Linked DNA regions of Homo sapiens. The protein of the gene in region 2 purifies or fractionates together with the protein of the main gene of each other region. This does not show direct contact. Each region holds a gene or a part of one and is shown on either strand. Other genes may lie near its edges.

Region 1 (7,024 bases), on a different chromosome or scaffold from region 2:
GAAACTGTACCAAAAGTAGTTCTTTAAATCTGTTACGAAAATAAGCTTGTAGCTGTTTTCTCCAGGAAAGGAAATAATGAGAATTTCAGTTGCAGTTGGCATATGGAACCCATGTATTTATTTTTCATCCCTCCCAAAACCCCACTAAAATGATAGTAAAGGAATAGAAAAAAACAAAACAAAACACCCTTAAGGACAAAAGAATGTGAGATGAAACAACAAAGGATGAGAAATGTTAACATATTTTTGGAAGCTGGAATGCAAGTGGAACAGCAGGTAGCAGAGCTGAGAAAGTTGAAGCCTCAGTCCTGAAAAAAAGGATGCAAATGAGAAGCATGCTTATTTGCCCTGAAGAGGTCTGGTAAGGCCCATAAACTAGAGGCAATAGGTACCATAGAAGGTGGTGGTAAGGAAAAGGTGAAAATAGAGGAACATGTTCAAAGTCTGAATAGGAAACAGATTCCCAGGTTCCCTTCCCTATTCCACAGAGCCAAGCATTTCCCTCTCTCTCATCTCTGCAGAAGATCAGAGGCTTGAGAAAGAAAAACTAGGCTGGGCGCGGTGGCTCACACCTGTAATCCCAGCACTTTGGAAGGCCAAGGCGAGCAGATCACCTGAGGTCCAGAGTTCGAGACTAGCCTGACCAACATGGAGAAACCCTGCCTCTACTAAAAATACAAAATTAGCCGGGCATGGTGGTGCATGCCTGTAATCCCAGCTACTCAGGAGGCTGAGGCAGGAGAATGGCTTGAACCCGGGAGGCGGAGGTTGCCGTGAGCTGAGGTCACGCCATTGCGCTCCAGCCTGGGCAACAAGAACAAAACTCCGTCTCAAAAAAAAAAAAAAAAGAAAGAAAGAAAGAAAGAAAAACTAACTAGGGGACACAAAATACAGTTGCAGGCTCCTAGAATGATGGTTGGAAACTGGCAGGAGACTGGAGTTCTTTTCCAGATAAACTAAATAGTCCCAGATAAAAGAATTACAGAGAATAATGTTTGGGGATTCCCCAGAGAAACAACCTGGTCCACATCCAATCACCCTACAGTGAAGCCCACCAATCCCCGAGCTCTGTGTATACCCAGAGCTTCTGATATGCTTTAATGTCTCATTCTTCCATATAAACAGACATACGGAACAACTCAGAATAGACAAAGACAACAAAGGCAAATGAAGAAAATTTAAAATTGATACCCTTAGAGCAATAAGAGAAAGTGTAAAGATCAGGATGTTATTAAAAAGGAACATTCAGGGAATAAGAACTCTTATTAAAAATAAAAAAGTTGGCTGGGCGTGGTGGCTCACGCCTGTAATCCCAGCACTTTGGGAGGCCAAGGCGGGCAGATCACGAGGTCAGGAGATTGAAACCATCCTGGCTAACGCGGTGAAACCCTGTCTCTACTAAAAATACAAAAAAAATTAGTCGGGCACGGTGACAGGCGCCTGTAGTCCCAGCTACTTGGGAGGCTGAGGCAGAGAATGGCGTGCACCCAGGAAGGCGGAGCTTGCAGTGAGCCAAGATCGCGCCACTGCACTCTAGCCTGGGCAACAGTGCGAGACTCCATCTCAAAAAAAATAAATAAAATAAAATAAATTAAAAAAGTTAACATCAAAATAAAAAATTAAAAGGGTTAGAAAACATTCTCCCAGAAAGTAGGATACAAAGATAAAGAGATGGCAAGTAGGAGAGAAAAGAAAAAAATCAGAGGCTCAAAGAGGCCCAACATCCAAACTAACATAATATACTGACAGAAAAAGAAATGGGAAGAAAACACTCTTGAAGAAACACTTTTAAAAAACTTCCAGAACTGAAGGATATGACTCTGGAGATTGAAAAGGGTTACTAATTACTTAGAAAAAAGACTAAAAAGAGATCAGCACACAATCATAAAATTTCAGAACAGCAGGGATGCAGAAAGGGTCTAAAAGCAAAAAAAAAAAAAAAAAAAAAATCCTAAACAAAGGTTCAGGAATTCCAATGCCTTCCTACTTCAACAATAAAATAGGGAACAGAATGATGCTTTTCTTATTTCAGGGGAAAATTATTTCTAAACTATTCTATATCCATTATATGCACATTTGAAGATAGAATAAAGGCATTTCAGACTGTTACCACCTATGTATCCTTTTCTCGGAAAGCTATTAGAGGGTGCGTTCTACAGTAAAGGAGGAAATCAAGAAAGCAGAAGACACAAGATACAGGAAACGGAATACAATATAGATCAGCAGCACAGGAATCCTCCAGATGAACCTGTGCAGCTGGCCTGAGAGCAACCAATTTAGATTTGGATCAGAATGAAGGGGGGCTGGAACAGAGAGATTACCTGTTGACTTTCACCCTGTGGAAAATAATATTAGGACAGATTTTATGTTATTCTTATTTTTTGAGACGGAGTCTCGCTCTGTCACCAGGCTGGAGTACAGTGGCATGATCTTGGCTCACTGCAACCTCTGCCTCCCGGGTTCGAGTGATTCTCCTGCCTCAGCCTCCTGAGTAGCTGGGACTACAGGTGCACGCCACCACGCACAGCTAATTTTTGTATTTTCAGTAGAGATGGGGTTTCACCATGTTGGCCAGGATGGTCTTGATCTCTTGACCTCGTGATCTGCCCGCCTCGGCCTCCCAAAGTGCTGGGATTACAGGCGTGAGCCACTGCACCCAGCCGGGACTTTATAATTCTTTTAAAAAGTTCGGGAAGAACTAAGCCAATGTACCCCAAATAATAAGCCAATGAAAAAAAGGCAAGGTGAGAGTAGGGAGGGGTGACTTATGTAAGAAAGGAAATACTACCTGGCTTAGCAGCAAACATGTAGTAATATAAATAACGAAAGCTGATCTAACAGAAAAAAACAAAAAACAAAAAACAAAAACTGTGATGTATCCTTACTGGGAGAATGGGGAGAGGGAAAAAGGGAAGCACTGTATAAACAGGCTAAATCCCCATCTTTCAAAAATATTTCATTAATTCTAAGATGAACTTTTTCCATCTCTGAAATTGGGAACAATTATAATTGGCAGTGTTTTTTCTCTTTTAGTGACATATAAAACAATGGTACTTCTTATAACGGATAACACAGATTTGATGAAAAATAGTCAAGGTCTAAAACTGATAGACCAAGAAAAAGCAGAAGATGCTCTTTAGAAACATCAAAGGAGGACGAGGAGCAGTGGTTTATACCTGTAATCCCAATACTTCAGGAGGTCAAGGCTGGAGGATCACCTGAGATCAGGTGTTCACGACTATCCTGGGCAACAGAGTGAGACCTCATCTCAACTAACTAACCAGAAACACCAAAGTAAACATTAGAAGCAATGAAAAGAACAGAAAGTTGCTGCACCTGGAAACTGGGAATTGTGGGTGACATTTTAAATCTTGTGAGTTGACTTTTTAACTTGTGCTTATATTAACCTTAGTAAAAATAAATATTCATATTTAAAAATCAATGAAATTAATGTGGTAAATAAAAAACAAAGATCATACTACTTCATAAACTTACAGAAGGTGGCTTATCCACAACAATTCCAGCAAGCAACTGAGATTGTGGTCCTGCTGTTTTCAAGTCATATCGATTTTGTTCCCGAATCTGAATTGAAAAACAATTCAATATAAAGTTCTTGAGGGCAACTATGCAGATGACCTTTGCTTTATCTTTTCATAAAAGCTTACTACTTGACATTTCCAGAGTGAGAGTCTCTTCAATTCCCACCTCCATAAAGACCTCTTTTACCATCCTAACAACTCATATTAGTCTCCTCTGCTCTTTATGGCAAGTTATTTCCTTTCGTCTTAGGTTGTTAGAGAACTGCATTTTCCCCCTAATAGCAGGGTTCTCTAACGCAGAAAAATGTTCAATACATCTTCCCCATGTAGCCTGTTCACCAATTACTAGCACAGAGCTGGAGGCATTCAATATAAGCTAAAATTATACTGAATTAAATTCCAAATTCTTCTGTATTCAAACTTCTAAGTTTGGCATTAACCAGATTCAACCACTGGTGATTTAAACATAAAGCAATTAAAATGTCTCCCCTGGCTATAGAAGACCATGTCTTACCTTATTTCTCTTTTCTAGTACCTCATTCGGGTTTGTGTTTAAAGGAACAAACTGATTTGGATCTTCAATTTTGATAGGTGTTCCACCACTAACTTTAGATGAGTCTTCTGCTTTCATCCACTAAAGAATCAAAAATTTTCTAAAATGAAGCTTTGTGTTAAGAAAATATTAGTAGATTGTTAGATAACTGCTTATAGTCTCAAGAGGGGCATTGCCAATGTTTAAATAATTTCACTAAGCAGTATCTTAGTGGTGAATTAGTTTCATCTCATACTAGTTAGAAAAGGCTCAAAATCAACATTTACTTAAAAAATAAATGCCATTACGATTCACATAAATATTCAATTATACTGCTAATTAAACTTTCTCCTTGTGTCAAGTGAAAATATGATGCTGAAACTACTTCAAGCACAGAGAGCATGATCTCACATTCACTCACATTCAGTGTTTTGTCTTCTGCACTGAAGACAGCAGTCAGATGAAGATGGCAAAGGAGTAATCAAAAAAAAAAAAAACTTAAGAAATATCTTAAGATTTTAGTTTATCAGACTTCACTTTTTATTTTTGGCTGACAGAAAAGGCCAAGCCCTAATCGGCATTTTATAATGGGGATAATCTGGTATATAATAGCAAAATAGAACCACGGGGTTGGAAGGAGCTTACATAATTCTTCTCATTTACCCCATATTATAATCCTTAAAGAAAGCGAATCTCGATCAAGATTAATGATGGCTGACCATCAATCTCTGTAAACAAAATGAATTCTGAGAAACCAATGAGTTTAATTATGTTCTTTTACTGGGAGGCAAGAAATCTTATAGACTACAGAAAAGACATTTTGATGCCTAGGTATTTTCATATTGAATGCCATTAGTTTATATAAGATGAACTAATTCTGAATATCTAGAACTGTGGTGTCCAATCTTTTGACTTCCCTGGGCCACATTGGAAGAACTGTCTTGGGCCACATATAAAATACACCAACACTAACGATAGCTGATTAGTTTAACAAAATCACAAAAAATTCTCATAATGTTTTAATAAAGTTTACAAATTTGTGTTGAGCTGCATCCAAAGCCATCCTGGGCCATGGACTGGACAAGACTGACCTAGAGAATGTTTGGTGGTATGCACTCCAAAACCAAACCAAACCAAATCTAATGCAAAATTCTGAAAAAGATAAAATAACCCATTTCTCTACCTACAAGATCTTGCCTAAGGGTAGCTATGTGCAGTGATTCATGCAGCTTTGGTACAATTAGGAGTTGATAACTTTTACAGTTTTAATTCACTGGTGAATTAAACTACTGGTGTAGTTTAATAGAAACTACAAAGCAGTATCATGTAGTGGACAAGAACTGGGCTCAAGAGTCAGACTGTCTTCATGCAAATCCCGAGTTTACCATTAAAACATGATTAATTAACCCTTCTTGCCTTGGTTTTCTCATCTATAAAATAGAAAAACAGCATCATTCATATTAGGAGAGTTAAATGAGAAAATTCGTGTATGGCACTTAGAAGAGTGTCTTGCACAAAGTTAAAGCCAGATAAGTGACAGTAATATTTTTAATATTATTTTACTTTCCAAATATTTTCAATATAGAACATTCAATTCTTGAGTAACTAGGCAAAATATTTAGTAAAGGCAAACTACATAAAATACTGGCATACCGTGATTTTGGTTCGGGGACTGGTTTCTCCGTTCCGAGACTCCTCAGGCACATTCACTTTCATGTAAGTATTTGGTGAGTTCAGCCATCTTGTTTTTTCACGCTGTTGCCTCTGTGCCATGTATTTGAGAGGAGAGAGTGGCACTGTATCGTCTTCAAAGGAAAAAGCAGTCACAGTTGCTGGGATTTCCACATCACTCTTGTGCCTAGGCTTCTCTCGAATGAGAGGATGCCTGTAAGCATAGCCTGTTCTATACCCCTAAGGGAGGGAAAAGCCACATTTGAAGCATCAAACCTGTATCAATAACAGCATTTGGATCCTAATTCCTTTTGTATACAAATGATTTAAAAGACTCCTTTGCTAAAAAACAAAGAAAAAGGCATCCTTCCAAACACCACATAACTTTCATGTAACACTGGAGCTGAAATTATGCAAATTTCAAGACCTAGTTAGAGCTGATAACAGCTGATATTGCAATTTCCACTCACACAACTGTTCCCGACAAACGAACAGTTCTAAGTTGCTGACCAGAAGTGCTTTTCTATCTATAAAACTGTTCTGGGGAAGCAAATCTCAGTGCTCATTTAAGTCTCTGTTCCTGGGTCTGAAGGCAGTCAGCCTTCTGAGCCTTCACAGAAGAGGGTAAAATCTAAAATAACATTTGCCAAACCATACATCTTTTAAGGGGTTACTATCCAAAATATATAGGGGACTCAAAAAATAACAAGAGAAGAACCCAATTAAAAAATAGGCAAAGGATCTGAATAAACATTTCTCAAAAGAAGACATACAAATGGTCAACAAGTGTATTAAAACATCACTAATCAAGAAAATGCAAATTAAAGCACGAGATGGCATGTCCTGTTAGAATCGCTATTATAAAAAAGATGAAAGACAACAAGTGTTAGAATGTAGGGAGAAAGGGACCCTTTGCACACTGTTGGTAGCAATGTAAATTAGTATAGCCATTGTGGAAAACAGTATGGAGGTTCCTCATACAATTAAAAATAAAACTACCATATCACCCAACAGTCTCACTACCAGATATATATCCAAAGGGAATGTACTCAGTATGTCAAAGAGGTATCTGTACTCTCATGTTAGGTACACCATTATTCACAATAGCCAAGATATGGAATCATCCTAAGTGTCCATTGATGGATGGGATATAAATGTGGTATATACAACATAATGGAATACTATTCAGCTTTAAAAAAGAAATTCTGTCAAATGTGACAACATGGATGAACCTAGAGGACATTGTATTAAATAAAATAAACCAGGCACAGAAAGACAAATA
Region 2 (7,069 bases):
GAGTTCAAGACCAGCCTGGCCAACATGGTGAAACCCCGTCTCTACTAAAAATGCAAAAATTAGCCGGGCGTGGTGGCACATGCCTGTAATCCCAGCTACTCGGGGGGCTGAGGCAGGAGAATTGCTTGAGCCCGGGAGGCAGAAGTTGCAGTGAGCTGAGATCATGCCATTGCACTCCAGCCTGGCTGACAGAGTGAGACTCTGTCTCAAAAAAATAAATAAAATAAATAAATAAAAATGACTGCATCACTTCATACTCCTACCAGCAATGCATGCAGATTCAATTTCTCCACATCCTTGCCAACATTCGTCATTGTCTTGCTGATTAAAGCCATCCTAGCGGGTATGAAGTGGTATCTCATTACAGTTTTGTATTTGCATTTCCAAGACCATGGCTAATAATGTTAAGCATCTTTTCAGGTGCTTACGGGCCATTTGTAAACTTCTTGGGAGAAATGTCTATTCATATGTCCACTTTAAAATTAGGCTTTATTTGTCTTTTTATTGTTGAAGTGCCTATCATCATTTAAAGATGCTCAAGTCTCTACCATTTTAAAGCAAACAAACACTTGGTCAATTCCAGATCCTTGCTGCAGCCACTGCCTTTTAAAAAGAATCTCTGGGTTGGGTGCCGTGGCTCATGCCTCTAATCCCAGCACTTTGGGAGGCTGAGGCGGGCGATCACGTGAGGTCAGGAGTTCGAGACCAGGCTGGCCAACATGGCGAAACCCCGTCTCTACTAAAATTACAAAAAATTAGCTGGGCTTGGTGTCAGGCACCTGTAATCCCAGCTACTCAGGAGGCTGAGCCAGGAGAATCGCTTGAACCCGAGAGGCAGAGGTTGCAGTGAGCCAAGATTGCGCCACTGCACTCTAGCCTGGGTGACAAGAGCAAGACTTTGTCCAAACAAACAAACAAACTAACAAAAATCTGTTTCTTGCAGAATTTCTTGAAAGAGTTCTCCACACTTGTGGATTCTACCCACTCTCTTTCAAGCTATTGCAATCTGGCTCCTGATCCTAACACCACTGAAAGTGCTCTTGGCAAGGTCACCAGTGCCTATTCCGTCACTAAATCCAATGGACTTTTCAATTCTTTGTTTATTTGATTTCCCTGTGGCATTAATAAACATCAAGGTCCTCTTCATCTTTGTTGAAAGATTAGAGATGCTTGGTGTAAGTGACAGCACATGCTTCTGAGTTTTCTCATTCGTCTCTGGCTGCTCTTTCTCAAATCTTCTTCAAGATTTTGTCCTCAGTCCTCTTATTTTCCACCTTTATATGGTTCCACTGGGCAATCATGTTCATTCCCATGGGTGCCTACTTAACACTGCTGACTCCTAAATCTCATCTCTAGCTGCTGCCCAGACTTGCCTCCTGGGATCGAGGAGAGTATATCTGTCTAATCAACATCTCTGCTTGGATTCCCATCTATCCTCAAAATTTATCCCAAACCAAACGTTTTATCTTTATCTCTCTTGCCTTCCCTACTGAATTATGCCGATTTAAAACTTTTAAAGTCGGCCGGGCGTAGTGGCTCACGCCTTTAACCCCAGCACTTTGGGAGGCCAAGGAGGGTGGATCACCTGAGGTCAGGAGTTCGAGACCAGCCTCGCCAACATGGCAGAACCCCGTCTCTACTAAAAATACGAAAAAATTAGCTGGGCATGGTGGCGCACGCCTGTAATCCCAGCTACTCTGGAGGGTAAGGAAGGAGAAATAGCTTGAACCCGGGAGGCGGAAGTTGCAGTGAGCTGAGATCACACCATTGCACTCCAGCCTGGGCAACAAGAGCAAAACTCCGTCTCAGGAAAAAAAACTTTAAAGTCATTCACATTCGTCTGCTTCGTTCCATTCTCACCACCTATGCACTGGTCCAGTACCATTTCTTAAAAAGATGACAACATCTTCCAGCTCCAACCCTCTTCTCCAAACCTAGCCAGAGATCTTTGCAACATGCACATCTCGCCATGTCACTCCTCTGCTTACATGAGCTATTGTCGGCAACGGGATTACAGTGGCTTAGGAGTCAGACACACTTGGGTTTCAGTCTTAACACCATAACTTATTGGCTGCAAAACCGTGGGTGAGTTAATTTCTCTATATCTTAGTTTTCTCATTTGAAAAAAAAAAAAAAAAGAGCCACGAAGAGCACCTCCCACAGGTCTCCCCCAGGGTTGAGACCATACACACCATGTCCTTGGTTCAGAGTCAGGCACATTTGAACTGTTTAATACATTTTAACTGCTATTTTTATTAAACCCTTTCAATCGAGGCAAATCAACCTCTTTCATCCTAAAATGTGGGGATTAGATGGAATGACTTTAATCAACTCTTTTGAGACAAGACACCTTTGGACCCTGAAGCCTCCCTGGGTGCTGGCCACCCCTCCGGGGAGGAGGCATCCGTGGGTGCAGCTGGTACTCCTGCATGAGGACCCAGAGGGTCAGGGTCGGGGACTCCTTCTGCTGCAGGACAGCGCTGACCCCAGGCTTCTTACCCGCCCCCGACCTGTTACCCGGCGACAGTCCCCGCCGCCCCGTCGCCGGGCACAGACTCAGCCGATCCACAGCCATGAGTGCGAAGCCTCTCAGGCAGGGCAGGCAGGCAAACCGCAAACCCACAGGGCGCACCCAGCCCCGCCGCTTCCTCCCGGGCCTCGCCCGCAGCTGGAGGAGAGAGGAAGGAGGAGGCGGCGGGCAGCGGGCAGCGCCCACCCCATCCCACCCCATCCCACCCCACCCGACCCCGCGGGCCCGGCCGCCCGAGCCCGGCCCCAGCCCTGACCCCGGAGTCCCGGTCGCTCACCTTGAAGGACATCCTGCACATGTCCGCGGCCGCCCGAGCGGGAGCCGGCGCGCTTTGGGCCCGGGGCGCCTTGTCCTCCCCGGCCCTTCACTCTCCCGGGGCTCTCGGCGTTCCGCAGAGGGGCGGCCTCCGACGCCGCGCGCTCCCGCCGCCCGGCCCGGCAGCAGCCGCCGCACACAGGGCCGGGCCGAAGGGGCGGCGCGGGGGCGCGCGCGCGCGCACACTACACATGGGGTGTCGCGTGGACGCGCTCCAGGACCTGCCACACACGCGCGTGCACAAACACCCCAAACTCCGCACGCACTGTGCACTTTCCACACACGTCCACACTTCCACACTCACTCGTCCACACACACACTCCAAACTCCACACACATTGTGCATACGCTCCACATTCCACACACACAGAGGTTCCACACACATACTTTCCACACTCACGCCCACTCACCCGCATGTACTCACACACAAACTCCATACATATCCTCCCAAATAGACTGGTCTGCCCCAGAGGACTCCCAACCTTCATTACAGCACAAATATTATAATGATGTAAAAATGAAGCTTGAGGAAAAAATTCATCCAATAGCTATTTTCGTTATAATTTCTTTCTCGGTTTCCTGGGAAACTTTTTTCTCCTGGGGAAAATATCTAGGAAACAAACCTTTTGATTGCACAAACAATAAGTGGTCTTTTCCTCTTTGAAGGGCAAAGGCCAATTTTGGAATAGACTCATACCCCTCCTCCTCCTCCGCGTTATTAATCCAGCAGTTCCCTCCTCCTCTGGGTCTGATGCTGCAGCCCTGGAGTATTGCAGTATGTGTGTCCACTCCTGCTGCCTGCCCAGGATTGGTTTGGGCGAAGTAAAACTGGGAGTTTTAAGTATAAACGGCAACAACAGCTCTTTGAGAGCATTTTAGAAAAGTGAAAGTAAAAAAGTAGCCCAGGCATAGTGGCTCACGCCTATAATCCCAACTCTTTGGGAGGCCAAAGGCGGGCAGATCACTTGAGTCCAGGAGTTCGAGATCAGACTGGCCAACATGGCAAAACTCTATCTCTACTAAAAATACAAAAATTAGCCAGGCGTGGTGGTGCGCACCTGTAGTCCCAGCTACTCGGGAGGCTGAGGTGGGAGGATCGCTTGAACCTGGGAGGTTGAGGCTGCAGTGAGCCAAGATTCGGTCACTGCACTCCAGCCTGGGCAACAGAGCAAGACTCTGCCTCAAAAATAAAAATAAAAACAAAACAAAAAAATAGTATAAAAATGGAGGTCTTACCCCCTCAAACTATAAGAATCCACTCATTCATTCTCCCCCTCCTTCCCTCTTCTCAATTAAATTTGTAACGAATATTTAATTTAAAAGGTAGAAAACAATTACAAATAAAAGTTAATGATAAAAATTAAAATGTTTAACCTTCATGGATAAATTGTATTACTTTGTGCTTAAAACAACTTTAAATTAAAAACATTCTGAACTTTTATAGAAAATTCCAATTTTAAAAATAAGGACTCTAAACATTTTCCTTGCCTTGAGTGCCTATAAATGACACAGTTTTTAAGTTGCCACACAACGTTATTATATAAAAATCAAGCATCAGAGGTTTTGCTTTAATAGTTTTTTGTTTGTTTGTTTGTTTTTTCTTCTCAGATGGAGTTTCGCTCTTTTGCCCAGGCTGAAGTGAAGTGGCATGATCCTGGCTCACTGCAACCTCCACCCCCCGGGTTCAAGCAATTCTCCTGCCTCAGCCTCTCGAGTAGCTGGTATTATAGGCTCCTGTCACCGTGCCCAGCTAATTTTTGTATTTTTAGTAGAGACAGGGTTTCGCCATGTTGGCCAGGCTGGTCTCGAACTACTGACCTCAGGTGATCCACCTGGTTCGGCCTCCCAAGGTGCTAGGATTACAAACGTGAGCCACCGCGCCTGGTCTGCTTTAATAGTTTTGATAAATAAAAGGGAGAAAGGAAAGAACTAATATTTTGAGTGTTTTCTAGGTACAAGGTGCTTTCCTTATAAACATTTTATGGGGTGAGTATTAACCCATTCCACGGATGAAAAAACTAAGATTCTGAGAGATTGGAGTAATTTGCTAATAAGTGATAGGGCTAGGTGTTTGTCTAGCTCCAAAGCCTGTTTCCTTTCCGTTACACTTGAGCTCAAAGCTGCTTTTCTCTGGCCAGGGTGCTGATGGGATTCTTGTCAGTCTCTGGAAAGAACGTGCCTAACACCGTCTGACACACGCGGTTAAACTCATCTTCATATAAACAGCTCTGAAATGGAACAAAGCTCTCATGGTCACAACAGGCAATTCTTTCTAAAATGGTCCACTCCAAACTTTAATAGTGACCCACTGGACCTAATACAAGATTTAATCTGCACGGCCCAGTTTTCTTATCCAAACATCTTCTCACTACCCAAACAGAGCCTCTCCATCCTTGTCATCCTGTCAAACAAAAGGGATAAAGGAAAAAACTAATATTTTGAGTGTTTTCTAGGTACAAGGTGCTTTCCTTATAAACATTTTATGAGGTAGGTATTATACCTATTCCATAGATGAAAAAAGTAAAATTCTGAGAAAATGGAATAATTTGCTAATAAGTGATAGAGCTAGGCGTTTGTCTAGCTCCAAAATCTTATCACTGCTCTCTTCCCACTACGGCTCTCTTTCATCTCCTCTCTTTTGTCTGCCAAATCCCAACCTACCCAGGGTGTTACCCCCAGCTCAAGTTCCTCTTCCTACACCCTGGTTCTCAGTCATCTTCCTCCCAACTTTGCTGAGCTCTTGCCATGGTTCTGCTCTACACCACATCCCTCAACCCTGATTCCACAGGGTCTGGTATTGCTCTCAGTTCTACTTCTGTTGCTTTTGATTTCTTCAGCAGAGTTGAAATTCTTCAAGGCCAGGCCCTGTGTCTTATGTATCTTTTATTTTCCCCAGGGGCTAATTTACGGCTGGAGGCATGGTAGATGGTCAAAACTTATTCATCATTGAATTAGTAAAAGAGTCAGGGGGTTGTGTTATCCAAATCTACCAAGTCAGAAGGCCCACTCTTATCCACAGACATGCATTACTCAGATGCACAGACATCTGTGTTGATCTCAAATGAGTCCATAGTCATTGTCACCTTCTGTTCACACCAGCACAGACCTTGATGTGTTTGGCCTCTATTTTGCACTGTCCCAGTTGATGGTCCAACAGGATTTGCCCTCGACAGAATTGAGAAGTAGGTCAATCTGGTCTACTGAGCTTTCTTTTTTTTTTCTTTTTTCTTTCTTTCTTTTTTTCAAGACGGAGTCTTGGTCTGTTACCCAGGCTGGAGTGCAGTGGCATGATCTTGGCTCACTGCAACCTCCACCTCCCGGGTTCAAGCGATTCACCTGCCTCAGCCTCCTGAGTAGCAGGGATTACAGGCACAGGCCACCAAACCCGGCTAATTTTTGTATTCTTAGTAGAGACGGGGTTTCACCATGTTGGCCAGGCTGGTCTCAAACTCTTGACCTCGTGATCTGCCAGCCTCTGCCTCCCAAAGTGCTGGGATTACAGGCATGAGCCACTGCGCCCAGCCTACTGAGCTTTCTAACACCCTTTTTGTAATCAGGCTCCTTCATCCAACTAAGAGTTCATGCTGGACATCTTTTCTGTCTTTATTCTCTGTCTACTTCCCCATCCCACATCTTTTAAAATTTTTGTATCTATTTATTTTTTATAAGGATAGGGTCTCTGTCACCCAGGCTGGAGTGCAGTGGCAGGATCACAGCTCACTGCAGCCTGGAATTCCTGGGCTCAAGCAATCCTAATGCCTCTGCCTTCTGAGTAGCTAGGACTACAGGCACATGCCACTATACCGTCTAATTTTTAAAAACATTTTTTTACAGATAGGATCTCGCTATGTTGTTCAAGCTGGTCTTGAACTCCTGGCCTCAAGCCATCCTCCCACCTCAGCCTCCCAAAGTGCTGGGATTACAGGCATGAGCCACCATGCCCAGCCCTTGTTTAATTTTTAATTTTTATTTAATTTTATTTTTTAGAGATGGGGCATCACTATATTGCCCAAGCTGGTCATTAAGTCATAGGCTCAAGTGATCCTCCCTGTCAGCTTCCCAAAGTGCTGGGATTACAGGTGCATGCCACTATGCCCAGCTTCCACCTCACATCTCCCAGCTAGTTAGCTCCGTCTCTCCTAACCTATTGGAATTTACCCTAGATGAGGCTTCTTGCAGTGGGGACTGTAGCAGACACAGCTTGGAGTAATCTACCCAACACCCA
Region 3 (7,024 bases), on a different chromosome or scaffold from region 2:
TTCATAAGAAGATGACTAACTAGTGGAATGATTAAGATCATAGGTCCTGGTTTGGCAGCTTTGCAGAAGTGGGCCATGGTGGCATTTGGAGCACTCCCACTGCCTGTTAAAAGAAAAATTTTAGATGAATTAAACTTAACAGAGTTTGAGCAAAGCATGATTCAGGAACTTGGGAGCCCTCAGAATCAGAATGGTTTCTGAGTGACTCTGAGGCTGCCACATGATTGGATACATTTATGGACAGAAAAAGGAAAGTGACCTACAGAAAATGGAAGTGAGATACAGAAATGACTGGATTGGTTACAGCTTTGTATTTGCTTTATTGGAATAGTGTTTGAATAGTTGGCTACCTGTGATTGGTGGAAGCTCAGCTGCTGTGGTTGGCTGAGACTCAGCTACTTGTCACAAGAGTAGGTTACAGTCTATTACACATCAAGTTGGGTTACAGTTTATTATACGTGGAAAAGCCCTTAGGCCACACTTAAAATATGTAAGGAGGCAGCTTTAGGCCAAACTTAATGTAACATGTCCCAGGCCAAGTGTATGATAGCAGATGGTGGTTTGAACGAGGGGAGGGGCCTAGACAGCTATGGGACTTGGCCTGTGATGTGAGAGTCAGATTATGTGAGGTTTTGTGCCATCTTATGTCAGACTTGCTAGAAATGGCCAACACCTGGAATGGATGCCTTCCATTACATGTTGCAACCATTAACATCTAAACTATGGATATTTCAACCGAGGCTGCTCACTAGGGATTAGGGAGCTTTTGAAAAATCCTGATGTCCAGGTCATACCTCAGACTAATTATATTAGAATATCTGGCATCAGTACTTTTTAAAGTTCCCAGGTGATGCTATTGTGCACCCAAGGTTGAGAACCACTGCTCTAGGCTGAGGGCTCAGGCCATCAGCTGACCCTTGAGGAACTCTGTCCATGCGCCTTCCCTTGAACGAACTGTTTGCCTTTCCCCTAGAGGAAGAATGCAAACAAGAACAACAGGAAACCATCTGTGTATTCTGGGCTGATGGGATGGCCTTCCACTGTCCTCCAAGCTTATCTATGGCATCATTCTCCCCTCACCCCACCCAGAGAGACTGCAAAGGTAGTGTGTGGAGTTCTGGTAGAATGTGGAAGAAGAGGTTACAGGCAGCTCAGGGACAACAAGAATATGCTCTACTGGACATCAGCAAAGCCTCCTTTGTAATGAGCTTCTGACCAGAATCAAGGGTAGGCTGGGGCCAACAGGACTGCTGGAGCAAGGCCGGAGGGAGCCAGGACTGGCCAGCCACAGGCAAAGGGCAGATCAGGACCTGGGAGGCCAGGAGTCTTCTCCCAAAGAACAAGAGAGCATTCCATCTCCTCATGGAATGGGAGCCCATGGAGGTAAAGCAAGGGAGTGGCAGGTTATGGATGAGAACCCAGGTGTCCTGGTCCCTTGTAATGCTCTTTTATTTGTATCTTCACATATATGTTAAAAAGCTAATTATTGTTCAGCCAAAGTACATGCTGCCTTCTGCTGAGAAGAGAATCAGCCAGCAGGGAGAAGGCCAACGCTCTGTAAGGCCACCCTGGGTGTTGAAGGGGCAGAGCACCGATTTGAAGGCCTTGCAGTGCCGACACAGGAAAGGAGACGGGCTTCGCAAATTCCCACTGCCGGGAAGTGAAGCCCGGAACTGCAGGCTTACTCTTCAGAAGGGCTCCAAGATAGCAACAGAAAACATTTCTTCATTCATCATTCACACATTTTAAAAAGTATTCTTGATTAGAAAAAATCCACAGGTTTCCCCCAGCTTGACTTTCCAGAGGCTGTCGTGGTCCTTGCTCCAGGGAGCAGGTTTACACGCAGCACGTGGGGCTCTGGCAGCCGGGCAGCATGGCACCCTGCAAACCATATTTAGTTGTTGTTTCTCAACATGAGTTGAATGGGATTGGAGAGAAAATAATTTTCCATTAATAAAGTTGCACACCTCTTTTTAAACTTGGAATAAGAATCTGATTCTGCATTAAAACAAGTTTCAGAAAAACAGATTCACCAATAAATTCCTTTCCAGGGGCCAGAGCGAAGTTTAAGTTGTAAAGAAAAGCATTGGGCAAAGCGCTTCCCACGTTTCAGTAGTTCCTGTGCTCTTTTAGTAGTAGTCTTAGTAGGCCCTGTTTAATAGTAGTATTCTTTTGTGAATTTCCCACCATAATTTTTTTTTCTTTTTAGTTCTGTGATACGTGTGCAGGATGTGCAGGTTTGTTACATAGGTAAATGTGTGCCATGGTGGTTTGCTGCGCCTATCAACCCATTACCTAGGTGTTAAGCCCAGCATGCATTAGCTATTTCCACCATAATTTTTGAGGGGCCTTATTAGAGGGTTTCCATTTTAGATGAAGTACTGATTTCCAGTAAGTAGCTTACCACTGCATAGGTGTGCATCACAGAAATGCTCAACAAGGTCTGCAGGTCATGTTTCCATTCGGGGAACTCTCTACTCCAAGCCAAGTGTGACCATTTAAGGGCTGGCTAGTTGGGGAAGGGAGTGGACACCTGAACCCATGTTTTTACTTAGTCTCATGGCACAGCAGCGCCCCTATAGATGGGTATATGGGGCCGCTGCTGGCGTCCTGCCCTCCTCCCCAGGCTCTGCCTCTACCATCCTAGGAACAGCCGTACCCCACTGAGAATCCAACTGAACCTAGCCCTGTGCTCTGAGAAACGTGTACCCCGATGGGGAGCACCAACCTGACCGCATACCCTCTCCCCTTCTCTGTAGAGTTCCAGGAGCGAATTGCAAACCCACCGGGAAAATGAGCGAAGAGACGGTCCCCGAGGCTGCCTCGCCGCCGCCCCCGCAGGGGCAGCCTTACTTTGACCGCTTCTCAGAGGACGACCCCGAGTACATGCGCCTTCGCAACCGGGCGGCGGACCTGCGGCAGGACTTCAACCTGATGGAGCAGAAGAAGCGCGTCACCATGATCCTGCAGAGTCCCGTGAGTGGGGCTGACCCGGGCGGGAGAGGGCGCAGGGGGCGCTGGCTCTTCAGGACGTGTACCCACCCGAAAGATGAGTAACTCCTCTTTCCCTTGCTCAGGGTCAGTAGAAATGTAAGCCCACTGAGCAAGACGGATCTGGTCACCTGGGGCCTTGACACTCTCCCTTGTAACTGGTGGATGGCAGAACCTGGCTTGTGTGTGGCAGTTTGGCTTGGTGCGGGGGGAGGTGGGACGGAGACAGGAGTCCCCCTCAGTTTCCTGTGCCCCTTCGGAGCCTCAGTTCCCAGTCTTCCCTCCTCACCAAAAGCTATGACAGTGAACGGACAAATCCATGTAAACTAGAGACCAGCAGGGTGCCAGGAGGAGGGCTTGGGGCTCCCTTTACTGAACACCACAAAGTAAGAACTTTCTGTCGGGACAAATGAAGCTTTGACATGAATGGGATGGGGCTGAGGAGAGCCTGGAAGCCCCAGGAGGTGGGCAGAGTGGAGGGCTCAGCCGGGCTGTGGGATGGGGTGTGGGAAGGGAAGGCAAGTCGGGATCACTCACATCCCTCCTTACTTGGGGCCAGTTGGTTCCTGCCTGGCATGGACACAGCTCCTCCTTGAGGCAGGTAGTGCCTTGAGAAGGCCGAAGGGTGGGCCCTGTGGACCACTGAAGGCAGAGGGAGATCACTGTGGTGGAGGCAAGAGGGGTCTGACTGAGGAAGAGCTTGGGGGGCCTCAGGAATCAGCCCATGATCCTAAGGATCGGGAAGCCCAGGGACAGAGTTGGCATCTCCAATTGCTTGCCAGGATGGGCTCGAGATGGGAGCCGCTCTGCCTTGGCCTTCTGGGCTCCAGAGAGCCAGGGCCTGTGCAGGGGCTGTGTGAGACCCTGGCTGGGAGCCATGGTGCATACTCAGGCCACACAGAGCAGCTCCAGGGAATGGGCCGAGGTCCAATATCTGTGCCCAGATATTGTGTTGGGGAGCTGGGAGGAATATGGCAGATGCTGAAAGCATTGGGGTGAAGAGCCTCTGGGAAAACCCCCAGAGTGTGACTAGGAGGGGTGGCAAGGGGGTTAGGAGAGGCGGCAGAGTTAGCACCAGCCCAGATTTCAGGGCTCAGGCAGTAAATAGGGGTTGGAGGAGGGCCTGCTTCCTTCTTCCCTTTTACAGGTTGGCCAACACACCTAAGTGGCCCCCCATTTCCTCCTGAGTGTTTTCTCCTGCCACCTGGTGGGCAGGATTCCTTGCTTATGGCTTCATGGTCTGAAAAGCCAGGCTTAGAGTTGGACATCAGGAGTGGAAGTGACCTCAGAGGTCATCAAATCTTCCTGTTCTTCCTCCTACCCTTTCATTAAGCACATGAGGAAACTGAAGCCCGAAAGAATCACAGGCATCGCTAATGGAGAGGGATGGTGGCTCTCTCCATTCAGTTCTGCCTAAAAAAATGTCCTTCATTACTAAAGTGAAGTCCTACCATGTCTGATGGTGGGGAGGGGTCTTGGCCCTCATTTAGACACAGAAAGGACCTGGAATCTGGATTACTGCCCACAGGGCAAGGGAACACAAGATCCATTCCCAGCATTTCTTTGTTGCTTCCCATACAGCAATTCCTGAGGTCCTAGTGGAACTGCTCAGTGTCCCCTGTAGCTGGGGACCCTGAGCATGGCCCTGACCTAGCTGACCCAGGGGCAAGGGGTGGGCACTTGGAAGAGCTCATTGTTGGGCAGCTGTGTGAGAGGCTGTGGGGGGACAAGCACCTCGGGGCCTGCTTCAGTCTTTCAGGGAGGAGCTGGAAGGCCTCATCCAGGAGCAGATGAAGAAGGGGAACAACTCCTCCAACATCTGGGCCCTGCGACAGATCGCGGACTTCATGGCCAGCACCTCCCACGCAGTCTTCCCGACATCTTCCATGAGTATGTGGTGTCTGGGGAGCTGCCAGGAGCAGAGGTGGAGGGGAGGGTGGGGTGGGGAAGAGAGGGAGGAGCAGCAAGAAGCATCTGGTTGCCAGGCTATGGAGTAAGCAGCCCATTGTGTTATCAGGCCTTGGGGAGCTCAGCAGCAGCCAGAGAGGTACCTGGCTCTGCTTCTGATGTTGCTGCAAATTAAACGTCCACAGAAAAATTACCCCAATGCCAGGAATAAGAGGGTGGAGGTGACTTCAGTGGACGGGAAGAGACCACTGAAGCCTGTGTTTCCATGCCCCACTAGACAGGCCAACCTGACTCCACAGATGAGGGCTGAGAGGAGCCAGCCAGGGCTATGCAGGAAGCCACCCTCCTGGGCTGTTATGCTCTGCCCATAACGTTTAAAACACAAGCATCAAAAAATAACTCCCCCTCAATAAGATTATTACAGGATTATGGCTGAAAACTGTGAAAATAACCAAGAAAGGGAAGCAGAAATCATTCTACTGTGTTCTTAAAGCCCTCATATTACTATTCTTAATATTTTGGTGAACATATATCCTTCCAGTCCTTTTTTTCTTAACATATATAGATTATGCAAACACAAATGTAATCACATAAAATATGGTTCTATAATATAATTTTTGGTGGATACATGCTATTTAATAAATTTCCCATTGTTGGACTTTTAGGTTATTTCCAACTTTTTCTGTTAGGAACAATGCAATAAACATCCTTGTAAATAAACCTGAGATTATATCCGTGATTATTTTCTTAAGATAAATTACTAGTAGAATTGCTGAATTGAAGTACATGCATGCATGTTTTAAAGACTTTAATGCAGAATGGCAGATTACATCCTTTCTCCAAATGGATCCAATTTACGTTCCCAACAGTAATGCGGTAGAGTGCCCATTTCCTCTACCCTGGTCCATAGTGTATACTACCATTTGTTTCATCCTCCTGATTCAGTAGGTGACAAATAATACTTTATTTGTGTTTTAATGTGCATTTGTTTGACTACTGATGAGGTTGGATATATTAATGTATTTTCACATACATATTGGACATGATTTTCTTCCTTTCTCTCTCTCTTTCTCTTTCTCTCTTTCTCTTTCTTTCGTTTTCTTTTCTTCTTCCTTTCCTTTCCTTTTTCTTTTCTTTCTTTTCTTTTCTTCTTCCTTTCCTTTTTCTTTTCTTTCCTTTCTTTCACGCAGAATCTCACTCTGTTGCCCAGGCTAGAGTGTAGTGGTGCAATCTCAGCCCACTGCAACCTTCCAGGCTCAAGCAATCCTCCCACTTCAGCCTGCCAAGTAGCTGGGACCACGGGCACGCACCACATGCCTGGCTAATTTTTGTATTTTTTGTGGAGACAGGGTTTCACCATGTTGCCCAGGCTGGTTTGGCACTTCTGGGTTCAAGTGATCCACCCACCCCGGTCTCCCAAAGTGTTAGCATTACAGACGTGAGCCACCGTGCCCGCCCCTGACTTTCTTTTTATAGTAAATTGCCTTTTTACATCCTTTGCCTATTTTCCTATTAGTGTATTATTTTCTTATAGATTTTTACATTTTTATAAAGTAAAGCTGTTTCTCTATTATCTGTCAAATATATTGCTTTTTTTTTTTCCAGTTTCTCCTTTGTCTTTTAGTTTTGTCCATGGCATTTTTTTTGTCTTGTAGAATTCTTTAGTTTCTGTGTAGCGGAAACCATTGTAATTTTCCTTTGTGTGTTCTGCTTTTGATTGCATGCTTAGAAATACCTTTCCCATGTTTCATCATCTGATGGAACAAATACCCTTAATTATGCATTTGTCAATTTTCCTCAACTGTTTGTACAAGTTTATTCTTTACAATAACTTTAGGCCAGGCACAATGGTTCATGCCTGTAATCCCAGCACTTTGGGAGGCCAAAGCAGGTGGATCACCTGAGGTCAGGAGTTTGAGACCAGCCCGGCCAACATGGTGACACCCTGTCTCTACTAAAAATATAAAAATTAGCCAGGCATGGTGTTGCATGCCTGTAATCCCAGCTACTTGGGAGGCTGAGGTGGGAGAATTGTTTGAACCCTAGAGGTGGAGGTTGCAGTGAGCTGAGATTGCACCACTGCACTCCAGTCTGAGTGACAGAGCAAGATTCCATCTCAAAAAAG
Region 4 (7,591 bases), on a different chromosome or scaffold from region 2:
CCACCACGCTCGGCTTTTTTTTTTTTTTTTTTTTAAAGAGACAGAGTAGTGCAGTGAAGTGATCATGGCTCACTGTAGCCTCGACCTCCCAGGCTCACAGGTTCGTACCATCTTAGCCTCAGGAGCAGCTACGATTACAGGCCCATCCTAGCATGCCCAGCTTCATTGGCTACTTTTGAAGGATATTAGCGAAACAATTCATTATGTGAAACCTAGTAAATAATGGAGAAGAATTAAGCATTTATCCTCCCTTTTCTGTAAGAGATACCTCAAGATAACCAAATAGTGGAGGCATGAAAAATTATCTTTATAAAAATATTCTATTTAATAAAAGAAGTTATAGAATTCAAATATCAATATATTCAATGCTTGCTGAAATGACTGTAGGCACTGACAATCAAGGGCTGCGAACAAAGACTACTAATCATTTCTGCCTACTTACCTAAGAAGTTTGCTTGACAAAAGTAAAGCTGAATCTGATCATACCTTTAGATCTAACCACCAGTTTTCAGTAAATTCTGTGAAACTATGCCACAGAGTAAAATTGAGACTGTGCATAACTCCACATGACAAACTACCAGGTTTCATCCATAAATAAATTACAAGAGAAAACTAAATATGGAGGGGAAACTATCAATTAAAATGAGTCACACTGTATAGATAGCATGTGGATCGATTGAAATTGTTAAGAAAAAAAATGAGAATTCTGACAATTTTAACACTGGCTGGATATTTGAAAGTATTAAGGAATTATTCATTTTCTGTGATAGTGGTACTCATGTTTACCTTTTGTTTAAGTCTTTAAGATATACATATTGAACTATTTAACGGTTAAAGGATATCTAGGACTGCGGGGATATGATGAAGCAAGATTGACTGTTGAAACTGGTTGAGAAAAGGGGTTTATACTATTCTCTCTACATATGTGTATATGTTAAGAGGTAAACATGGAAGGAAAGAAAGGAAGGGCAGTCAATCTAACTCTAAGTTTCAAGCAATAAGTAAATATTTTGTTATCTTTCAAAGCATTTCAGTATTTACTTTTCTTATTCAATTCAAAGACTATAAGAACTAAAAACTAAAAATCATGTAAATAAACAGTTTTTATGGCAAAATCAGTAACACAAAACTGAACACCAAACAAAACCTTCTCAGTATATCAGATAACATCAAAAGAATTAAGGGGAAAAATGACCAGCTTGTACGAAGTATATTTTAGAAGGAAAACTATCTCACAATTCGGGGACTGGCTAGAGTTTAGACTCACATCACTCAGCGACTCTCCGAAACTTTAAAACCTAAAGACACCACAAGTAGAAAACTAACAAATCATACCAGCTGTCCATACCATTGTAAACCACATCGAAACTCTGAAAAGCAGTTTTGACTGCCCAAATCATCCACTTCCTGAAAAGACAACTTTACTATTCTAGTTTTCTCCACTGTCAAAATCAAAGGAGTATATTAAAATTTTAACGTAGGCCAGGCGCGGTGGCTCACGCCTGTAATCCCAGCACTTTTGGAGGCCTAGGCGGACGGATCACGAGGTCAAGAGACTGAGACCATCCTGGCCAACATGGTGAAACCCCGTCTCTACTAAAAATACAAAAATTAGCTGGGCGTGGTGGCGCGCGCCTGTAGTCCCAGCTACTCGGGAGGCTGAGGTAGGAGAATTGCTTGAACCTGGGAGGCGGAGATTGCAGTGACTGGAGATCGCGCCACTGTACTCCAGCCTGGCGACAGAGCGAGACTCCGTCTCAAAAAAAAAAGGTATCATCGCGGGCCTTTGTCCATTCAAGGCTCCAAAGTTTACAAACTCACTTTCATACAATTCACACCCTCTGCCTGAAATGCCCTCCTCTCTCTGGTGCCTGTTGAACTCCTACTCATCCACTCCAAGCTTGTTTTCACTAGGCGCCTCTACTCATAGACACAGTCGACCTATCAGCATTCTATTTCCTATCCCCATTAAGATCTCAGTCAATTTTTCACACAAAAAATCTTTCTTTAACTTACCAGTAATGCATACAGCTATCAGCTATGTCTTTGGTCTTTGGAGATATGACAATTGCTTTTTGTCTTTCTAAACATAAATTATGCTCAAACCAACAACAGTTTCAGGCGAACCAAAATACGTTTTTCAAGGTGGGTATGCATAAAGTGAATGCAAATTACCTCCCAACTATCTTGAGCCATTACAAGAGCAAAGATAAAAGTCATCCTAACAGGGAAAGGCCCTCTGACATCTCCCAAAAAACGAAAATAAAAGATTAAGAAAAAAGAAAAGAGAGGGAGGGCAAAGGTGACCAACAGCCCCATCGCTGATAAAGTTCCACGATTATCTCTCGAGCGTCCGTCGGCAGATATGGCTTTTCTCTTTTGGCAGAAGCCGTCGTTTTTAAATACGAGAGCCGACAGATGCGTCCGTACACAAACCTTGCAGCCACCAGCGCTGCGGACCGCGGAACCGGTCTCACAAGCAGGATGCTGACCAGCGTCCAGCCAGGGTCGTCCTCCTCCGCCCCCACCCCTGCAGCCCACAAGCCGGCCAGGAACGAGCGGCCCGGGAAAAGCCTAGTCCCCGGGGTCCTATCCCGATGAAAGATCTGCGGCGCCCTCGCTCCCCGGCTCGGCCCAGGCCGAAGGCCCCGCGGGGACCCCTCCAAGACGCCCTCGGCGCCGCAGCGGCCTCCCCGCCCCCGAGGCTGCCCGGGCCGCCGCAGGCCCCGCGGCCCCCGCCCGCCGCAACCGCGGCCCAGTTCCCCGCGCCCCCGCCGCCGCCTCAGCCCGAACCGGGCCCCCGCCGCCCCCGCTAGCTAGCCTCACCTCAGAAGCGAATCGTGGGCAGCGCGCGGGATTCCGGGGTCCCAGTGCGGCCACCGCCCGTCGGCTCCGGCTCCGGCTCCGCCCCCGTCCCCTGGCCCGCAGCAGCGGCCCGCCAGGCCTCTCCGCCCCTCAGCCCCTCCGCTCGCCCCCACCGCCCGACCTGGGTGCGGCCTGCGGCGCTGCAGCCCAACAACGCGCCGTCCCATAGGCCAAGCCGCGCAGCACTGCCGAGCAACGTACCCTGCGATTGGCGGGACCCATGAGGGGCGGGTCCCCTGCGGGCAGGGCGATTGGACTCGCCAGGCCCGCCTCGGGGCGACCCCGCCGGGGCCTGCGGAGGCCCAGGGTCCCGCGCGGAGTACACCCCGGCCGGCAGCTTCGGGCGCCAGGTCATGGCTTCACGGTGGCCAGGTAGACTGCGGCGAGCCCCTGCCGGGTCCGCTGGACACGGTTTCATTGTGATTGACCTCCGCCGGAGGGGCTGTCGGAGCCCAGGGACCCTGCCCTCCCGCCGCCGCCCAGCGCACTCCCCCAGCAGACGGGCCCTGCCCCGCGTAGCCCCGCCTTGTGCAGTCCCCAGGCCGAGTTTTGGGGCCCGGGTGGGGTCAAGGCAGCAGGGCCTGTGGGCCCCGATAAGGCTCCACAGAGGACAACTGCCTGGCCCCCGGGCCCGGCCTGCGGGTGCTGAGGAGACCAGCGAGCACCAGCCACCTCCGCACGACCAGGGAGTGAGCCTGCGGGGCTTTGGCAGGACCAGCCTCAGACCAGCACCTTCCCGCACACTGTCCCTCCTGCTGGCGCATCTGACACCCAAAAAAACAAGCAGCGAGACAAATGGGCACGGCTGCTTGTCCTCTTGACACCCATAGAAAGCTTAGGTCCAGAGCTGGGCAGTGGCAGAAGAGTGTGGAATCCAGACCTCCCTGCTCAGCAGGAGCCTCTGTGACATTGCCCCAACAAGGGTCAGGGATACTGTCTGGATGGAAGCCAGCGACCCCTGTTCTAACCATTTCTGTTGGACGTTGGCTTTTCCAAGACGATTTTTCTGACAAGATCACAATTCTGTCTCATTCACTTCTGCTTCCCATAGTTAATCACTAGGGAAACGCAAATCAAAACCACTGTGGGATACCACTTAACATTCATTAGGATGGCAGTTGAAGAAGCAGGGAGTTGGGCGCAGTGGCTTCAGCCTAAAATCCCAGCACTTAGGGAGGCAGAAACAGGAGGATAGCCTGAGCCCAGGAGTTGGCAGACTTGACTGGACAACATAAGGAGACCCTGTTCTCTACAAAAACGAGAAGAAAACAAAAAGTTTCAAGGGGGGAGAAGGAGGAAGAAGAGGAAAAAAAGAAAATAAGTGTTGGCAAAGATGCGGAGAAATTGGAACCCTTTGTGCATCGCTGACGGGAATGTAAAATGGTGTGGCTGCTGTGGAAAACCGTAGAGTGGTTCCTCAAAAAATTAAACATAATTACCACATAATCCAGCAATTCCACTTCTGGATATATACCCCAAAGAAATGAAAACAGCTATTTGTACCATGTTCATAGCAGCATTATGCAGAGAAGGAAATTCTATTTATTGGGGTTTTGTGCCTTTTTTTTTTTTTTTTTTTTTTTTTTGGAGTCAGGGTCTCTGTCGCCCAGGCTGCAGTGCAGTGTTGCAACCATGGCTCACTGCAGCCTTGACCTCCTAGGCTCAAGGGATCCTCCTGCCTCAGCCTCCCAAGTAGCTGGGACTACCAGCACGTGCCAACATGCCTGGCTAATTTTTGTTATTTTTTGTAGAGACGGGATCTCACTATGTTGCCAGGGCTGGTCTCAAACTCCTAGGCTCAAGCAATCTTCCCAAATCCAAACTCAGCCTCCCAAAGTGCTGGGATTACAGGCATAAACCCATAAACCACGATGCCTGGCCAAAAGAAAGGAAATTCTGACGCATGCTACAACATGGATGAACACTGAAGACATGCTATGTGAAATAACCCAATCACAAAAAGATAAATGTATGATTCCACTTGTATGAGGTGTCTAGAGTAGTCAAATTCAGAGAGACAGGAGGTAGAATGGTGGTTGCAAAGGGCTGGAGGAATGGGGATTTAGTGTTTAATGGGTACAGAGTTTAAGCTTGGGGTGATGAAAAAGTTCTGGAGATGGATGGTGGTGATGACTGAACAATAATATGAATATTCGCAAAGCCACAGAACTGTACACTTTAAAATAATTAAAATGATAAACTTTATAATATGAAAATTTTATCATAATAAAACAATTTTAAAGCTATTAAAATATTCCTTCCTTTTCCAACTACAAAAAAGTAAAAAGGTCCAGGCGTGGTGGCTCTTGCCTGTAATCCTAGCAATTTGGGAGGCCAAGGCGGGAGGATTGCCTGAGCTCAGGAGTTAAGAGATCAACATGGACAACATGGCAGAACACTGTCTCTACTAAAAATACAAGAAATTAGCTGGGTCTGGTGGCAGGCACCTGTAATTCCAGCTACTCAGGAGGCTGAGGCACAAGAATTGCTTGAACCCAGGAGATGGAGGTTGCAATGAGCCAAGATGGCGCCACTGCACTCCAGCCTGGGTGACAGAGACTCTGCCTCCAAAAAAAAAAAAACAAAAAAACAAATACGGTCTTAGGTGAGAGTTTTAAAATACATTGAGTTAGAATTAGATATATACAACAATAATATCAAGTAATGAGGGAGACCAATGAAAGTCACCTGAGGTCCTTATGTTGTCCAGGAGGAGGATAAAAGTATTTATTAGTTAACTCTAGACTTCAGTAAGAATAGAGAGTGTTTAACTTTCTAACTAGGAGAAGGGGGGAAATGAAATGATTTGTTTTAAGTTGCTCAATCTCAAAGAAGGGGAAAAGGAGAGAAAAGGGAGGAAGAAAACACAAACACAAGTGAGACAATATGTAGCATAAAATAAGATGGTAGATTTAATTACATTAAATACACAATGGACAAAATGCTCCAGTTAAAAGACAAGGTGTGTTTTATATGCTATTAACAAAAAAAAAAATGAAATTAAAAATACACAATTTACAATAGACTAAAAGAAACATAAAATATTTACAAATCAAACTTAAGATAAGCAAGACCACAATGGACAAAAATATAAAATCCTATTGGTAAACCTTAAAGAAGACCCAAATGGAAAGAGAGGTAAACCATGTTCATGAATCAGAAAACTCAATATTGTAAAGACGTCAATTTTCCCAAAACTGATTGATAGCTATAATAAATTCCCAAACTATCAAGTGCATCATTGTTGTTGGAATTGACAAGCTGATTTTAAAACTTATATGGGAGAAAAACCTTACATGAAAATACAAAGAGCCAGAATAGTCAAGACACTCTCAAAGAAGAAAAATAAGGTGGAAAAGACTTACTTTATCAGATCTCAATACATAATTGATAATAATGAAGACAGCTTGATATTGGCACAAGAACAGACAGACTAATGGAACAGAGGAAAGAATCCAACAACAGATCTACATATGTCATATGTGGACATATGACAGAGGTGGCATTGCAGATGGGCGCAGAAAGTTAGATTACAAACAATGATAGGACAGGTGTGTAACCCTATGGAGAGAAAAAAATGAAAGTGAATCCTTACCTCACACCATATGCAAAAAACCAAATCTAGGTGAATTAAAGGCCTAAATATGAAATTTACATTTATAAGGATTTCAGAATATAATCTAAGAGACTATCTTCATGACCTTGGAGTGGAAATAATTTCAGTGGTTTTCTTTTTTTTTTTTTTTTTTTTGGTTTTTTTTGAGATAGGGTCTCACTCTGTCTCACAGGCTGAAGTGCAGTGGCACAATCACAGCTCACTGCAGCCTTGACCTTCTGGGCTCAAGCAATCCTCTCACCCCAGCCACCTGAGTAGCTGGGACTACAGGCACGCACCACCATGTCCAGCTAATTTTTGTATTTTTTGTAGAGATGGTGTTTCGCCATGTTGTCCAGGTTGGTCTCAAACTCCTGAGCTCAAGTAATCCTCCTGCCTCTGCCCCCAAAGTGCTGGCATTACAGGTGTGAGCCACTGTACCCAGCCTGGAAAGAATTTCTTAAGCCACAAAAAGCACTAACCAAAATGAAAACACTGATCAATTCAACTGCATTAAAAATAAGAACTGGCATGCACAGTGGCTCATGCCTGTACTCCCAGCACTTTGGGAGGTCAAGATGGGAGGCTCATTGAGTCTAGGAGTTTGAGACCAGCTGGGGCATAGTAAGATCCTATCTCTAAAAAAAAAAAAAAAATTATCTGGACATGGAAGTGCGTGACTGTAGTTCCGGCTACTCAGGAGGCTGAGGTGGGAGGACTGTTTAAGCCTAGGAATTGAGGCTGCAATAAGCCAAGATTGTGCCATAACACTCCAGCCTGGGTGACAGAGCAAGACCTTGTCTCAAAAAACCCCCCCCAAAAAAAAAGGACACCATAAACAGTCAAGCCAGAGTTAGAGAAGATATTTGCAATACACATTATGGATAATATCAAGACTATACAAAGAATTATTAGATTAATAAGAAAAAATCTGGTAGCTCACGCCTATAATCCCAACTTTGGGAGGCTGAGGCCAGCAGATCGCTTGAGCTCAAGAGTTTGAGAGCAGCCTGCATAACATGATGAAACCCGTCTCTACTTAAAAATACAAAAAATTAGCTGGGCTTGGTGGTGTGGGCCTGTGGTCCCAGCTACTTGGGAGGCTGAGGTGAGAGAATCACCTGAGCCTGA

Evidence for each region.
Region 1: the proteins of ANKRD29 (region 2) and ADD3 purify together in Homo sapiens (affinity purification with mass spectrometry; 4 studies listed by BioGRID and IntAct, with this or other methods). This does not show direct contact.
Region 3: the proteins of ANKRD29 (region 2) and ADD2 purify together in Homo sapiens (affinity purification with mass spectrometry; 3 studies listed by BioGRID and IntAct, with this or other methods). This does not show direct contact.
Region 4: the proteins of ANKRD29 (region 2) and ADD1 purify together in Homo sapiens (affinity purification with mass spectrometry; 4 studies listed by BioGRID and IntAct, with this or other methods). This does not show direct contact.

The regions. Positions count from the first base shown.
Region 1 is NC_000010.11:110,122,975-110,129,998, reverse strand, and holds part of ADD3 (gamma-adducin), read right to left. Parts: intron 5,983-7,024; coding exon 5,725-5,982; intron 4,174-5,724; coding exon 4,054-4,173; intron 3,583-4,053; coding exon 3,496-3,582; intron 1-3,495. UniProt on the Homo sapiens protein: Membrane-cytoskeleton-associated protein that promotes the assembly of the spectrin-actin network. Plays a role in actin filament capping. Binds to calmodulin.
Region 2 is NC_000018.10:23,659,903-23,666,971, forward strand, and holds the start of ANKRD29 (ankyrin repeat domain-containing protein 29), read right to left. Parts: upstream 3,010-7,069; 5' UTR 2,829-3,009; coding exon 2,808-2,828; intron 1-2,807.
Region 3 is NC_000002.12:70,702,178-70,709,201, reverse strand, and holds part of ADD2 (beta-adducin), read left to right. Parts: intron 1-2,759; coding exon of another isoform or gene 2,760-2,793; coding exon 2,794-2,976; intron 2,977-4,742; coding exon 4,743-4,881; intron 4,882-7,024. UniProt on the Homo sapiens protein: Membrane-cytoskeleton-associated protein that promotes the assembly of the spectrin-actin network. Binds to the erythrocyte membrane receptor SLC2A1/GLUT1 and may therefore provide a link between the spectrin cytoskeleton to the plasma membrane.
Region 4 is NC_000004.12:2,839,260-2,846,850, reverse strand, and holds the start of ADD1 (alpha-adducin), read right to left. Parts: upstream 3,008-7,591; 5' UTR 2,827-3,007; intron 2,702-2,826; exon of another isoform or gene 2,017-2,701; intron 1-2,016. UniProt on the Homo sapiens protein: Membrane-cytoskeleton-associated protein that promotes the assembly of the spectrin-actin network. Binds to calmodulin.